Regions from separate parts of the Homo sapiens genome. Here region 1 is linked to region 2. The links come from fine-mapping of genetic effects on gene expression. A gene starts in region 2. The other region holds a variant in brackets. All regions are shown on one strand. Distances are between the middles of the regions. Region 1 overlaps TLE4 (TLE family member 4, transcriptional corepressor). Region 2 holds the start of TLE4 (TLE family member 4, transcriptional corepressor).

Evidence for each region.
Region 1: its variant is fine-mapped to the expression of TLE4 in whole blood (INTERVAL, PIP above 0.99).

Annotation. Positions count from the first base shown.
Region 1 is chr9:79,694,872-79,703,206 of GRCh38, forward strand. All of the region lies in intron 8 of TLE4 (TLE family member 4, transcriptional corepressor), which reads left to right. Among named protein-coding and RNA genes, the nearest start is that of LINC01507, 130 kb to the right of the region's middle. The variant A/G (reference allele first, on the strand shown) is at 4,548.
Region 2 is chr9:79,567,193-79,575,527 of GRCh38, forward strand. It overlaps TLE4 (TLE family member 4, transcriptional corepressor), which reads left to right and starts at 4,773. Exons shown (of 20, transcript NM_007005.6): 1 at 4,773-5,643; 2 at 6,497-6,594; 3 at 7,681-7,744. The coding sequence starts at 5,599. It overlaps LNCARSR (lncRNA regulator of Akt signaling associated with HCC and RCC), which reads right to left and starts at 760. Exons shown (of 3, transcript NR_184113.1): 1 at 440-760. RefSeq lists silencers at 3,245-3,294, 5,205-5,324, 5,385-5,544, 5,655-6,124, 6,145-6,384 and enhancers at 4,655-4,784, 4,795-4,844, 4,885-4,974, 5,702-6,314.

The DNA.
Region 1 (8,335 bases), 130 kb after region 2:
CTATTCTCTAAATGAGCAGCACAGAAAAACTGCTGATGCGTGCATTCTTCCCTGGGTCTGTCAGGCAGGATTCCTTTAAATCCTGTCTTTTCAGTGGTCAGACTTAAGTAAGATTTGTTTCCCTGTGGTCACAGACAGCTGAGGAGTGTGTGATGAGAGACAAGGAAAGGGATAACCTGTTGAAAACTTTCCCTCTTATAGGAAAGATTAATTTCTATTACAATTTTTAAAAAGGTGGCCTTCATACATTTATCCAACAATGAATATTCATTGCATGCCCACCCAGTGGCCAGGACTGGGCACTGACCTTGGGGGAGGGGCCTGCATCCTTGATTGGTGAGGAGAGCAGCAGTGAAAAGGCACCAGCTTTAACTGTCTTTTCAACATAGTTCTGAAAATTATCTTGTCACCCTATTACTTTCAAAATTACTATTTTTGAAGGCTGCCTCCCTCCTTTGGTGTGCCTACAAATGCATATCTCACACACACACACACACACACACACCACTGTTCTTGTATTACAGGCATTATATTAAGCACTGAGGATGCAAAGAAATAAGACACAATAGTGCATGACCTTTAGGAATGCATAATCTCCTATCTTAATATAATGAACATAATATGGTAACATGAAGCATACATGAGCAGAACCAAGTTTTGTGCCCATTCATTTGTTCAGCAGCTGTCAATTAAAACACCGAAGTACTGGATTTTCGTGGTGATCCAAACGGGCGTGGTCCTTGCCTTCATGGAGCTTCTAGTCAAGTAGATGAGATAAATAATCAAAAGAGTAGCCACAGCCACAGTGCTGGGAAGGAAGCACACAAGGGAGTGTGTTAGAGATCGGCTGGAGGGAGCTCCTTGGATAGCATTACAGATAAGACCTTTCTGAAGATGTGACATTTAAGCTGAAACATAAAAGATGAAAAGATGCTAGCCACTCAGGCTGGGAAAGAGAGTTCTTGGCAGAAGTCTGCACAGAGGCTCTGAAGGATGAAAACGTTTGGGTTGTCTGATGCTCTGAGAAGGAAATTTTCAGATCAGATTGGAGAAGGTGGGCAGGAGCTAGATGACACCTGCTACTTATATCAAGTGTGAGATGTTTGTCTTATTGGGTGTTGATTTCTGTTGTGACTCTGAGAACTTTTAGACCTGTGTTGTCTGACATGGTAACCACAAGCCACATGTGGCTTTTCAGCAGCAGCAATGTGGCCAGTCCAAATTGAGGTGTACTGTTGTCAGTATAAAATGCACATCAGATTTTGAACAGTTAGTACTAAAAAAAATGTAAAATGTCACATAATTTTCATATTAATATGTGTATTGACATGGTATTTTTTGAAGTATTGGATTAAATAGATGACCACAGTTAATTTTACTGTTATACATTTAAAAAAATCTGACTATCCGAAAAGTGTAAAATACATAGGTGGTTCACATTATATTTCTGTCTGTCAGCGCCATTCTAAAGAATAACTTTAATATTTTAATGAAGGCCCTTAAGACCAATCAGTTAAGCGATAATTGAAAACTGTTTAGCCCTTTTGTGGTGATATGAAGAAGACCAGAGTTCCTGATTAGCGACCTTAAAACTTATTAGGCAGCCTTCCTTTAAATTGATATATTGTCATTTCTTTCTTTGTTCCTGTTGTATTACCCTCAGACATTGTATAGAGTATATTTGCATACAGAATACATAAGAATATATATGAGAATCTGTGGAGTTAACACTCTTTGGAAAAAAAAGTTTAGCCTTTCAAATAGATTAAAGCAGTTTACTGGAAAAAAAAAATAGCAACATGAAAAGACTTTCTTTTCTAATAAATGTTAATAGTTACTAAAATGAAGATTCTGGTCCATTAAGATACAGCTTGCCAAGTCCTAAAGCTTAGTAACTTATTTCTCTGAGCTGTTACCCTACTTCAGCTTTGTCAAAGCAGCTGTTATGCTTGTGTTGATATTTTCATTCAAAAACAGAGCACAGTGCAGGGATAGGTATAAAGCCAGTGCACCTTCCGTGAACATCCAGGAAAGAGATTTTTGCCAACCCTCTCCACTTTTGTTTTTAGGGCAGTCAAACTCATGTACCACATGAGATTTGCCAGTGAGACTTAGTAACATTGGTTATAAAGCAGTAGGTGAATGAGTGGTTTATGATATGTTTTACAGGTCATATACTGAAAAAAATAATTCCAGAAGAAAGTGGCCAGTGCATGTAACTGTAATTTACAGAGTTAGCATACAAGATTTATAGAATTTGTATTAAGGAGAGCGAGAATTCTTGCTGGAGAACAAATGGACACAGAAATGTTAGACTTTGCAAACTTTGAGGAGGTCCATTGGATTGAAAAGTGCGAAATGACTTTGGGGTGATAGGTAGTTTAAACGATGAACACAATACAAAGTTGTATGCAGTTGGCAATTTTTATTACAATTTCTGTTAGACTGTTAATACCATGCCATCTCTAATGATCAGGAGAGGGATTACTTGATTAATTCAGCTTGTACTTTGGATTCTTCTCTCCATCAGTGGTGAGGGGTTGTACTTGTTCCAACTCATTCATCTACTTTCTTCCTTGTGTGGCCCAACACTTGCACCACATGCAGACTAGCTTTCAAGAGAGGGCAACTAAGCTCCCTACATAAGAATCAACCCTGTGTCTTTGGCATCAAAGCATCATGTCCCAGCAGCTCAGTTTGTCAGCTAAAGTAACTGTGTTCAATGAAATTTCTGGGGTGGAGCCAATAGCTTTATTCCAGGAAGAGGAAGCAACAGTGAAGAAACCCCCGAGAGGACATTAAGATAATGTTCTAATTTAAAATCAATTTTATTGATATCTTATAAATTATTAGAGCGTTTTATACTGACCAAGCAATACATAATGCTGAGGCCATGAAAACAGAACATGAATGAATTAATATTGAAGTGCTGTATTTTCTACTACACATGAAGAAAAAAATATGTAATACTTTTGTATCCTAAGTATTTTGACTCAAGGAGCCCTACTGAAAAACAAGGTGTATATTTCATTCTTCAAGGTGTGTATTAATATTTTATTCAAGACATTTCATGTGTTTCTGTACTTAGTGGGTTAAATACTTGTTGAATGAGTCCATAAGCAGACAAAAAATATGCGGTTGTTTCCACATTTGCCAAAAGGGAATAGCTGTCTATGGGGGCTTACTAGTACTAGATGCTAGGTTGAATTCTTCTTTATCCTTATGGCAACTTACAAGGAAGTGCTGCTAACACCCTCGTCTTACCTACTGGAGAAATGGAAGCTTAAAGAGGTTCATGAATTTTCCCAAGGTCACATAGCAAGTGTTACAGCCTGGTCTTGAACCCAAGGCTGTCTGACTTTTATACCTGTAGCATAACCATTGTAGACACTGCCTCTCTTCTGTTATTCTTCTGACTGTTGGTTCCTCTGGTTTGATAATATTTTGATTACCTGCAAAAGAAATTTACCTTGATCCAGGTTTCTCTTACCAGTAGAGAAGCAGAGACAAAAACAATAGAACATTTTAAAGAATATATTGTTCATGAAATGTTACAGAAGGTGAAACATTTGTTAAGAATAGATTCATTACTTTATATGGAGATTATATTAAATCTTCTTTTAACAAGGGCAGGGCTTTAGAAAGTCCCAGTCATTTTTGAAGGTGAGTTTTGATTTATGTTAATTTGAAAAAAGCAAGTTCTGTGAGAGTTTTATACAGATTGTGCTTTTAATGACTTCCTTAATCAAGCAGGTTATAAAAAAGAAAAACCTCTTACTGTGATGAGCAGTAAACTGACACCAGTGACTGGCTCAGTCAGAGCTCTACTATATTCAAGTTTTTTACCACCAGCATGCTATAAATTTTAAGTTCATTTACATAAATTTACATGTGTTATGTGTTAGTATGTGAGACTTGTGCATTTTGACCAAGTAATTTTCATTTTAAAGGTTTTATATTTACTTTTTTCCAATTGAGGATTATTTCTTATATATATATACATATATATATATATATGTATATCCTGGTGGTTTCCCTGTAAATGAGATAATAATATGTTAAAATGTTTTATCAGTTATAAAGAGCTCAATGAATGGGAAAATAAACATTTTGTGTAATTCTGTACAATAAAATCCAAGCAGAACTAGCTGGGTTATGGTACAACAGTAGTTTGATGTACGTAGGTTTATTCAGGATATTACTTTCCAAACTTACTCAAAGTAGTTCCAAAAAAACAGAAATACAGTGCTTTGTGGTCTGGTGAACATGATCAACTCTTTGGATGATTCATGACTATAGAGTCACCAGTGTTCATTTTTATTTTTGACATGGGTCTTTTGCTTTTCTAAGGGGTTGCAGAGGAAAATATGATTGAGGACTTTGGTTATGGCATCAGTAAAGGATCTACAGGGGCCTTCTTCAGCTTTCTGTCTTCTGTGCCTCCACCCCTGTCCCCATCACCAAAAACAAACTCAACTTGAATCGTCCCTGACTCTGATTAATGTTTGAGAATTCCTATAGTGACTGAACTATAGTTAAGAGTAACT[A/G]TAATTTATCGTCTAAACTTGGCCATTTTTGAGAGTGAAGGGAAGTCTGGACAACAGGTGTAGAAAGGGCAAACCAGGACTTGCAATTACCCTTGACATATTTTAGTGGTACCTTCTGACTCCTCATTATCCCATTTATCTGTTTGAAAACTGATTTACCCTTTTGTACCGTGTGGATACGATTTTTGAAGGCCATAGCTGATGAGCAAACAAGCCATAACGAATGAGTTTTAGGCTGCTTGATCATGGTTTCCATGCGACCTTTAGCATGTTCTTTCTGGTTGTTATCGTCTATGGGCAGGGAAGTCTAAGCACTGCACCTGTGTGAATGGAAAGCAAAATTGGCATGGTGTGCATTTGAAATCAAATTAGAAAGTCCATTGTGGAGATGGTATTTGCAGTCTTGCCTCTGTGCAGTATTGAACCAAAACCTTATCGTGATTGTTGAAAGGAGAAAAGTTTTGGTGAATAGTAGCATATTAAAACCCTATAATTATGGGGCATCAGAATATCTATGCTGGGGGAAGTCCTACACAAATGTCTAGAAAAGACCTAACATAAGGTTTAAAATAGAAGATCCACACTAGGTCACCATCCCAATCTCTAAAGTAAGTAGAATCAACTGGAGTCCAGTATACAGTGATAGGACTAAGTTGCACTGTTGAGGGGCTAGGCTATGTGCCTGGGACTGCGCGTTGTACTTTATGTGGATTATTTTTCTTGGTCTTCAAAGCAGCCCGTGGGGCTGAGAATGGTGTGTTGTTACCCCAGACTAAAGAGAGGCTGAGACTAAGCAACATCCCTTACGGCTATTAAGTGAAGACTCTAGACTCACACCAGGCAGTCTGACTCCAGAGAGATGCTCTTGCCTGCTATTAAAATCTGTGCTCCCTGTTATTAAAATTAGCTAATTATAACAACAGCATCTTCTTTTGGAGGGGGAAGTTACTTTATAGAAGTCTTTCTCATACATTGTCATCTTTGATCTTGAGGTGGCAGAGGAGTAAAGGTGGAGGGGTGGGGCCTTCCCTTTCAAGTTGCTGGAGGTGTCAGTTTTCCATCTGACTTGGTCAACAGCCCTAGTAAAGTCTGGGATGGTCTTTAATCTAGGAACTAGAATCTTCTCATAGTGAAATTAGAACCTGATTATAGCTTTTTAAAGCTTACCTTTTGCTACCAAAGCAATTGGGGTTTCCATGTAATAAGTCTTTTAATCCTTTAGTATTTTTTTCTTGGTTTCTCCTTGTTTTCCTGCTCTTTTTCTTAAACAGATCTACCCTGTTCTTTTTAAATATCCCAGCATAAGTGTTTACTTTTAAAATCCAGAGCTTTACTAAACATTCACATTCAGGGTATTTTGCTTTCTCTGGATCAGCCATTGCTTGTGACCGTGACTCTCCAATCATAACAGATTTGCTGAGATACACACACACATACACACACACACGCACACTCAAACTGTAGTGAGAAAGACTTGTGTTTAATCCTTCTAAATTTGTAGATTTATAGGGTCACAATGCAGCTTCAGTAAGTTTCTTATGTAGTAAACTTGAGAAATATCTAAATTGAGCTTTTAAAATAATAATAGAGAAATAAAAAATAATAAAATAAAAAGCTTTTCTAGTAAAAGCATGACTTTATCGGTATTTATTTAATTCCTCTTATTCACATGCCTAGCAAAGATCCAAGTGGCATTCCTGTGGCAGAATGGTGGACTTACAAGATTCATGATGAGAGTCTGTGCCAAGTCCAATTTGATTCCAGAGTAATTATGTTATTAGAACATTGCTGATTGCCCCAGTGCCCACTGTGCAGCTTAACCTTTAAATGCTAGTGATAATTAACTACTTTATCATTCTACCAAGAAACTCCAACATGTAACTCTGTTCTACAGTCAACTTCAAAAATACAACGCTGCCTGCAAAACCGGAAACAGCTAGCTTAAGAAAAATATAAAGTATTTGGTTGTACATATGAGCCAATAAATGAACATAAAATCTAAATCTAAATAGGCATTACCTTTTAGTATTTTTAAGAAATTGTTTTGTTTAGAAATTTTTCCTCTTAAACAATGTGGAAATAACTTTCAATAGAATATAGCAGAATCAGAGAATTGTTAATAAAAGATATATATACTCCATTTTTCTTCTTTTTGTAAAATATGAAATTAGCCAGATTTAGTGCATCTAAAGGTAAGTAAAGGAGCAAAGGTGAGGAAGGGGCTGAATTGCCATATTACCGATTCCAAGGGCACCACAACACAAATCTTACTCTAGTGAATGGTCTCCCATGGAATTGTTCATCCTAGTGATGCTCAGAAAAGGAATGTATCATAAGAGATTTGGAGTGAGATTGAGGCGTGCAGAGGGGATGTTCAGCCATTTGTGTTGAGAAATATTTCTGGGCAGTTCCCTTCTGCTCATGATGCTAGGTGCCCCACCCTCAGGGAACCCACAGCCTAAAGTGGGAAGTGGCCTTGTAAACACAGCAATAAATTTGTTGTGAGTGCTTTACTCATTGGAGGAACAAAATGTTAAGGGAACAAAGAGGAATGAATGATTAATTCTGCCTGACAGCATCTGAGGAAGCTTTGAAAGGTGACATTAGAGCTGATTCTTAAGGATAGTGGGGGATTTCAAAAGATAGATCTTGAGAAAATAGTCATTGCCATAAGCCAGGAAAAAAGGCTACAGGTGCAACGAAAATACACAGAGCCCAGGGGAACACTGGCTTATAGTGCTGATGTAGGATACAAGGCCAGGACTCTGGATTGGGGTGTGGAGTGAGGACTTTGGAAAACAGCCATACTCAGAAATTTGGAATTTTTTTCCCCCTGTGAACAGTAGGAAACTGTCCTTTTAAAAGAGGAGTTAAAACAGGCTGAACCTCTCTTTGGGAAGTATGAATTCCAGAAGTGAGGTGGATAGACTGGAGAGGGGAAAACTAGAAACGGGATTGAGGCATGAAGTATGGTAGATAGTAACCCACAGATGATGATTGCATGCATGGTTTCAGTGGTCATGAAAACCTACTGAGTGCATTGGGTTGTGTGAAAGCAAAGCAGAAGTGTTGACCCAAGTCTCATGGCTTGGGAGTGAGGTTTGGAACTCAGCAGAGATACACAAAAGTCAAGAAGTAGTCCACTTTAAAAAATCGTTTGGCTCGTAATGTTTTGTGTCAATCTTCAGCCTTACTGAATAATGCCTGCAGTCTTTTCTGCCACTAAGTTTAAGGCTGAACGTTTGATAGGTCTAGGGCTAGAGTATTCATATAAAACCTCAAGAGGGGCTGGCACAGCAGGGACGGATTTAGAGGTCCCCAGCCCGCCCAGTGGGCACCCACTCACTGGTCCCATCTCTCTCCCCCACCAAACTCCCACCTGCACATCTTTGGAGCTTGTAATAAAGAGTTGCCATCACCACAGGTATGAAGAAAGACCATCAATCTTCTTAACAATGTGCTTTGGAAGTTCAGAAATGCCACAAAAGAGATTGTGACATTAAGGCTCAGTGGAAATAAAATGGAACATAGACCCAAAAGTTCTGGGTAACACACTTTCTCTCATAGTTAATTAAAAGGGCCTCGTAAATGTTGTATGTTTTTATAAACATCAGTTATTACCAACAGACTAAGATAAAGCAAAAAAAAAAACCCGTTCAAAGAGTTAGTCTTATATGAAATAAATTTATAAATGAGGAAGAGCTTTCCTGACCAGTTTTCTGAATTGATTTGCATGCCAGACAGAGACGTTCCAGTGGTGATTGTTCTTCCTATAACTTTTTTTCCAT
Region 2 (8,335 bases):
AAATGCTCACATTCACCAACACTTCCTCAAATGAGGCTTTTGAATCCACCTGAAATTTGCTTCTCAGTGATTTTTGCTTTGGCTGACTCTTTCTAGGCATTCAGGCTTCTGCTTAAATGTCACCTCCTCCAAGAAGGCTTCTATGAACTCCCATCTGAACTAGTTCTACTACTCCTGTCACTCCTTCATATTATGCAACTGTTTGTCTATCTCCCCCCATCAGAATGTAAGCTCCAGCAAGAAAGACACTTTGCTTATGTTGTTTACTGTATCAATCGGGATCCGATCAAGAGAGAAAAACAGTAATTTCAACAAGGAAAGTTCAATATAAAAAATTATTACCTATAACAGGGAATTGGATCAAAGGGAGATTGGTAAGAGGTAAAGAGAGCTCTAAATAATACAGAAATAGAGATATAAGGAACAGCTACTTACTAACCCTAGGGCTGAGATACAGCATCTCAAAAAGAGCTCCTCCAAGACACAGACACACTCTTAGGGCTGGCTGAGATCCAGACTTTGCTGGAGAGGGCACAGTTGTAACTTTCTGAATAGCAGGAGAGCCCTGCTAGAATTCTGCCTTCTGGAACTTGCTAGAAATCCACATTCCAGAACTCGTTGGAAATCCATTCTCTGGGGTTCCAAGGAAAGCTGCTGAGGGAGGTGACTCATTAGAGGCACTTGCTCCAAAGCCACCTAAGGGGCTTCTGGAGGAAGCTGCTGGCTGCTGGGTGCTGCTGCTTGCTACCTGTGCTGTAGGAACCTGCCCAGTATGCAACCAGAGCCAGGAACCAGGAAACCAAACCCTTTCCTCCTGCAATGTCTCTCCAGCGCCTTCTATTGACCTAGCTTTTTTAACAGCTGGAAAATATTTAAAGGGCTCAGATTCAGTTTCACTAGGCAGGCAATGAGGATGAATTTGGAGCTAAGAGGCAACATATTAATAATAGCCACTTTTATTGTGAAATCCCCATATTCTGGCACATAGTAGGTTTAATAAATATTTGGTGAAGTAATAAATAAATGATTTACATCTAACCAAAGTGAAAAGCATGCTTGGCATATGTCACTTCAAGATTGGAGCTTTCAGGCCTAGCTTTTAACATGAAAGTTGCTGCCAAGTGCCTCCCACATGAAAACTCTGGAACACCCCACCTACCCCCCACTCTGTGGTAGGGATAAGACAGGCCTCCAGATAACATCATAGCTTGGCTCAACAGTTAGCGAGAAGTGCAATGAGAGAAGCACAGCAGAGAAAAGGAGAAAAAGTGGCCATGAGCCCCACTTACAGTCTGTGTTACGGCTAGGGCTGGGCCGCCAGTTGCTGCATTTGCATCTTTCTGAGACATTGAGGTGAGTTACATAGCTCTGCCACGTGGCCAAAATGTGAAACACATCCAAGGGCTATATTTTAATACAGAACTTAAAAAATAAAGAAACATCTTGACTTCTCTAGCCACTTTCCTGTTGACACAAACCATCGAGAGAGATTAGGGGAAAGATCCTTGCTATAAGTGATCTGATATTTCCTAACAGAGCAAAGTTTCCTCTTTGTCCACTGACCCTTTCAATAGTTCTTCGGGTTCTATTCTTAGAATTCTCGTTTCCTGTCCTGAGAGAAAACTGCACAGAATTTCAATAAATATGACCCAAATGATGTGGAAACTTCCTATAAGGATGCAATGAGGTATTCATTCATTAATGCCATCAACAAATATTTACTGAGCACCAACTACCAGACAGTGATGGCAGACATAATTTGGGGAGTTTGGAGTGCAACTGTGAACACAACCAGGTCCCTGTTCTCATGGAACTTGCTAACATTCTGGCTAAAATAGAGAACATGGAACTTCCTACAGAGGCACTGTGGGTGATTTCACAAACCATTGAAAAGCTCTAGTGGGAGCAAGCAACTAACCAACCTTAGAATAAAACATGGTTGTTGCTGGTGTTCTTAGAAACTTCGCTGTCCTCGTGTGCAAATTGTATCACTAAAGTCTTCTCACTTTTGATTCTTGGGAAGGTTTCAGGGCAGGGCTGTCTAATGGAAATATGTAAGCCTCATAATTTAAAATCTTCTAGGAACAAAGTTAAAAAAGTAAAAAGAGGCTGGGCACGGTGGCTCACGCCTGTAATCCAAGCACTTTGGGAGGCCGAGGCGGACGGATCACCTGAGGTCAGGAGTTCAAGACCAGCCTGACCAACATGGAGAAACCCCGTCTCTACTAAAAATACAAAAAATTAGCTGGGTGTGGTGGCGCATGCCTGTAATCCTAGCTACTCGGGAGGCTGAGGAAGGAGAATCGCTTGAACCCAGGAGGCGGAGGTTGCGGTGAGCCGAGATCGTGCCATTGCACTCCAGCCTGGGCAACAAGAGCGAAACTCTGTCTCAAAAAAAAAAAAAAAAAAAAAAAAAAGTGTGTGCCTGCAGTCCCAACAACACTGGAGGCTCAGGCAGGAGGATAGCTTGAGCTTCAGAGTTTGAGGCCAGCCTAGGCAACACAGGAAGACCCCCATCAATACAATAAATAAATAGAAACAGACAAAATTAATTTTACTAATATTTTTAATTGAGTTATTCAAAATATCACAATTTTGACATAATTATAAATTATTGAGCTGCAGTTTTTTCACATTAATTTTTTCAAAATGCCACATATATGTGTACTTACAGCACATCTCATTTTGAATTGGACACATTTCAAGTGCTTAACAGTCACATGTGGCTAGGTATGGAACAGCAGAGGTTCAGAAAACTGTCAAAAGGACTTCTCTGTCCTCTTATTTTGGGGATGGAGGCGAAAATATTTGCCGAATTGAAACATTCTGTGAACTTTGGCTCTGGGTTTTTAGTATGAAATTAGAGGCAGGTGAAGACCACCATAGCCTTCCTTTGCACCAGCTCACTACAGTGGCCAGAACGGAAGGAGGTTCACAGAACGTGCTAGGTTGGACATTAAGTCACCGAGTCATCCACTGAGGAAAGGGATATCATTAAGAAGAATAGTTTTCCACTAACGCCGAACCGGCGGCACCATCTCAACCAACAGGTCAAGTTACAGTAGGCAAGCACGCATAGAAATAAACGTCTAAAACCCAGCCTGTTACATTAGCCAACACTCTTCTTGACTTTTTCCGAATTTTTTCCCTGTCCCCAAGATTAGCCGCTCGCTAGAAAAGACTGCGAGCCTCAGCAGCCTCCCCTTGAACTGGGGCGCTGCCTCCAGCTGGACACGGACTAAGGATGGAAAGGCGCACTGACGGAGGCCGCCCCCATTTCCCAGGCCCCTCCCTAGGGGTGCCCCTCCTCAGCCATGGCTGCCCCTTTCTCTCCTCCTCCAGCATCTGCCCCTGGGGCCACCCCCACCTTTCCGCCATCTCTCGGGCCCGCGTGGCACCCTGCTCTGTTTTTAACGGGGATAAACTTGACTTGCTTCTCCAAAGAGCGGGAAAAAGAGGCGCAGTCTTGGTACTGATCTGGGGGAGGGAACGTCCCAGGGCGCGCAGGGGCGTTTTCTACCCGTGCCCCGTCGGCCTGCTCTGTTCAGTACCGACCGTGTTCGGGGTTCACGTGGCCCAGTCGGCAAAGTTTCTTTGGAGGTCCAGCGTCTCTGATTCCCGGATCTTCAGCCCCACCCGGAGCCCCCACGGTTACTGCCCCCCGCGACCCCCGATGGAGCGTCGGGATGCGCTTTCTCTCCGAGTGCCTCCGGGGGTGGAGGGAGGGAGGCCTGTTTCGGAACTAAATGGCAATCACAGCCCCCGCGGGGCTTGGAGGGACGAGCTCCCCGCCCACCCCGCGGCCCCGGCCCCAGCCAGCATCTCGCGACTCCATTTCTGGCTCTAAACAAGAACGGGGACCGAGTCGCGTTCACACGGAAAATTATGCCGGCTCCAGCGGCGCGTAAAATTGATGTGAACCGAACGAAGTAAGATCAGCGTGATCCTCCCCCTCTTGTCTCAACAGGGGTTTCGGCGCGTTACACAAGGCCGAGCTTGTCTCTTTAAGGAGACATTGGACCCTAATTAGTCCGCATTCCTGGCGCGGCTGCGGAGCGAGGGGCCGAAGGTGTCTGGGTTGGGAGACGGGTGGGCGGGAGGACGAGACTCGGAAGAAGATCTTTTGACCAGCCCCCAGGCTCACCGCTCCCTCCACCCTCTTTATTTTGCCGCCACCACCACCACCACCACCAACACCTAATTCTGAAGATGCAGCCAGGGCAGCAGCAACAGCAGCAGCCGCCGATTCTCCCAGCCCCACGTTACTTTGATTGACAGCTGAACAAATGTTTTCCCGGTTCGAACGCTCGCGCTAAGGAACGTCAGCCAAGGCGAAGCTCCGCCTTGGGCGGGCCATCTCCGCCCCGCCTCCGCCAACCTCATTCCTCTTCGTTAATTGGTCGGAGCTACAGGCGACGCCCGGCCCCCACGTGGGTTTCAGCTGGGTTGGCTCCTCCCCGCTGGCTTGCCATTTGTCAGCAGTGAAATGATGGGCACTAACACAGAACGGCGATTAATGTTCAGCCACCTCTGATTGGTTGGTGGAGACGCCTACCGCAACGGGGGTGGGCGGGGCGCTTGGAGAGCTCGCCAGAGCGCTCGCATGGCGGGCCGGTGATTGTAGTCAATCTGGCCGTATTCTCAGGCAGGGTCGCCCGGGGCGGACTACATCTCCCGGGATGCTGCGCGGCCGCCCCGCGGAAGATTGTGAATATGTATCAGAATGTTAATGATTAGCTGCTGCTAAATTTGGTCAAAGAAGTCACCTACACAGAGCGTGTTGTTAGAGCTGTGCTGAGCGGGTGTTTGGGTTGTTGGCTGCTTTCTTCCCCCTTTCTCACACACTTGTATATTATTTTGAGGTGGTGTTCGCAGAGTTTGAAAGGAGAGAGAATTAAAAAAAAAAGCCGCAAGCGTTTCACTCTTTTATTTTTATAATCCCCTTCAATTTGGGGTTAAAAAAAAGACAAGAAAACAGGAAGGAAGAGAAATAAGGAAATGAGATGTGGTAAAAGAAGCTAAAAGGTGCCTTTTAAAAGATCGTTGCTGTGAAGTGAAAAAAATCTCCAGAGAAACCAAAAAGCACCGCCGAGACCTCTTCCGAACCAAAGGAGTTTGTGTTTGCTTTTAGGGAAGAAGAAAGATCATTCATTCGGAGGAATAACAACCAATTAAAAGACAAATAAAAAAAGTTTGGAGTGGGACGCAGAGCGAGCGAGAGGAGCTGCCGGCGGGCGGTGGGGCGCGGAGCCCGCACTTTCCCGGCCGGGTGAGCGGCGGCCGCGGCGCCGGGCTCGGCGGGTGCGCCTCGGCGGAGCGAACGTCGGAGCGTTGCCTTGGGAGACGCGCGCCGGACAATGCCCGCGGCGGGCCAGTGACGCCCGCGGGGAATGCGGAGCGGCCCGGCAGCCGGCACCCAGCCGCCGCCGCGCGTTCCTGCCGCCCGTGTCACGCGAGACCCGGCGGGGGCCGGGACCGCCCGAGCCGCCCCTCAGACCGAGCCGGCCGCCTCCGCTGCCGCGGCCGCCTCCTCTTCGGGGTCATTAAAGCCAATGAGCCGCGCGCCTCTGCCGAGCGCAGCCAACTAAATCGGCTTGGATGATTCGCGACCTGAGCAAGATGTACCCGCAGACCAGACACCCAGTGAGTGCGGGCGGCGGGGCGCGGGCTCGCCGGGTGCTGGGGGATTCCCCGCGTCGCCCCCTGCGCACCGAGTTGTGTCTTTTGGCCGGAGGGGCGTGGAGAGCCGCCCGAAATCGGCGCCCCGCGCCGGGAGCAGCCCGCCCGCCATCACCCCCACCCCCCGGCGCGGTGGCCCTCGGAGGGGGTGCGGAGAGGCAATTGAGTTGTAGCCATTTTCTTATTGTTGTCTTTGAAGCCCCTGGAAGCCGCGCCGAGCCGTTTGCGGTCCCCGCGCCGCGACTCCTCGAGGGGGGGTGGCGAGCGATGAAGGAGGCGCGACTCCGCGCCCGGGCGGGGAGGGCGCCCTCGGCAGCGGCGCTGCTGGGCTGGCTGCGGTTTGGAAGTGCGGGGCGCCGGCCCCTCGCGCCGCGGGCCGCCGGGGCGAGCGGGCGAACGAACGAGCCGAGAGGGTGGCGGCCGCCTCCCTCCTCCCCCGGCCTGACCGCAGCCCGACGCCATGGCGCGGGTCCCCCCGACGGGCCAGTTTCGATTCCGGGTGAGGAGGGAGTGGGCGCGGCGCGCGGGTCCCTGGGTGCCTGTCTTTGGCCGGGGAGGGGAGACGGGACTCGAACCCTCGGGGTCCGGGGCGCGGGGGCCTGCGGGCGGGAGTATGCGGGGCCCCAGGACCACCTCGAAACCAGCCTCTGCCTGGGCTGTTGGGCGCGAGGAGGGTTGCGGGAGGAGAGTTTTAATCTCTCTTTGCTTGCGTGCGCGATGACCCTCACCCCCCGCTAACGCCGCATAGTAGGTTTTCTCCGTCTCCCTGCTTCGCCTGTGATGTGGGCTAATTAAATATTTTATTGTTGTTCTTCAGGCACCGCATCAGCCTGCTCAACCCTTTAAATTTACAATTTCCGAATCCTGTGATCGGATTAAGGAAGAGTTTCAGTTTTTACAGGCTCAATACCACAGGTAACGATATTGACTTTAGCTGATCCTTCTGTTTGCTTAGCTCTTGTCTCCCCGACAAATACACACAAACACTTACCCTCCTCCTTTTTTGTGGGGGCGTCACAAAGGTATTATTTTTTTTTCTCGGTGGGCAGAAAGGGCAAATCAAGGCCTCCTTCCTTAGGCAGGTGTAAATAAATTAAACATTTCTTCTACCGTAAATAAAAAGAAGGCAGAACAATCGAAACTGGGGAGACTTGGAAAACGCTGAGGCCAAACTTTCGATATTGATTTATTGGGGCCGGGAGAATGAAAGGTTGGGAAGATTCTGGGGCCTTTTGACATCCTTGGTTCTTTATTACTCCGGACTTGATTCCTTCTCACTTTTTTCTGCCATTCCACTGAAGAGCTGAGAGCCCAGGGAAGTCGGAGTGAGCGATTTCATTACTTTTATGCTAAAAAAAAAAAAAATGTTTTCATCTTATAGACGATTTTTAGACTTAGGGTGCCTTTGAGACATTTTTCTTTAGCTGGCTTTTTAATGATGCCTAATTCTTATTTCATAAATGCAAGAACCAAAACAAACCACTGAACCCGATTGACACTTTGCCCCTGGGTGGTGGTATTCAACTTGTCTGTGTGTTTTGGAGGGAAAAAAACAAGATATCATTCATAAGACATGCTTGATTCATATTTTCATTAATCTCTTTGTAGAACATTAAAGAAATTCCCTTGTGACGTTTTGGAGGACTTATTTGTGCTTGTATGTGCAGTCATTATTGAAGTTTATTTTCGTGTTTGTTTTATTAAGTGAATATTCAATTCTGGAGGAAGTTCCTGAATTAAACTGATTAGAGGATTTGTTTCCTTAAAACTTAATTAAAAAAAAAATCCTAAAAACAAAAAACCACATATATGATCCTTATTGAAGGGGCAAGTCCAGACTGGTTCCAATCACCCCTTTCCCCTTCCCTTTCCATAATGATGGGGGTATTTATTTAAGATTGTTGATTTAGTTGTTTGTAGGTGAGATTTAGAATATGCGTTTAAGAGTTGAAGGATGTAAGTTAAGATCATTGTACTTAGAGTATCTTATGTCTTGAACAGTCTGAAGCTGGAATGTGAGAAACTCGCCAGTGAGAAGACAGAGATGCAGCGGCATTATGTCATGGTAAGAAAACCATGTCACAGATTCAAAGTGCCTATTAGTTTGGAATACCAAAAACAAGAATATGTTTAAATTGCTGGGGGCTGCAAGATAGATCACAGTCACCCTGCCAGTGCAGTTGAAGTTGTGGGAATATGTCTATTAGCAACCTGTAATTCTAGGCTGTTATAACTTGCCTTTGACAACTGGCTTTGATTGGAATTTTCAGAAAGTTCAGCCACATGGGGTATAATTTTCTGTGCTTTGTTTTTACAGATCGAAAAAAAATAAAAACAAAACCTTGTTTGTTTTGTCACAAGCAAAAATGTTTTTGTGTTAGTGGCTTTCTTTGTTGTTTTATTGCTCTTGCTCCAAACAATTTTTGCCAGTTTTTCTGTATGCTGTTAACATTGTAAATGTCTTATTATTAAAGACATTATTAAAAAATAATGTTTTATTTCTTTGAAAAGGAGTGATGGATAAGGAAAGACAGCAGACCATTTTTCAAATTTTTTTCTCTTTATGTTACTATTACATTAATATTTGTATGTTTTCAATTTCTGTAGTGTTATATTGGTTTGAGGAATGTTGTAGTCTCCTGTATAACTGATGTGT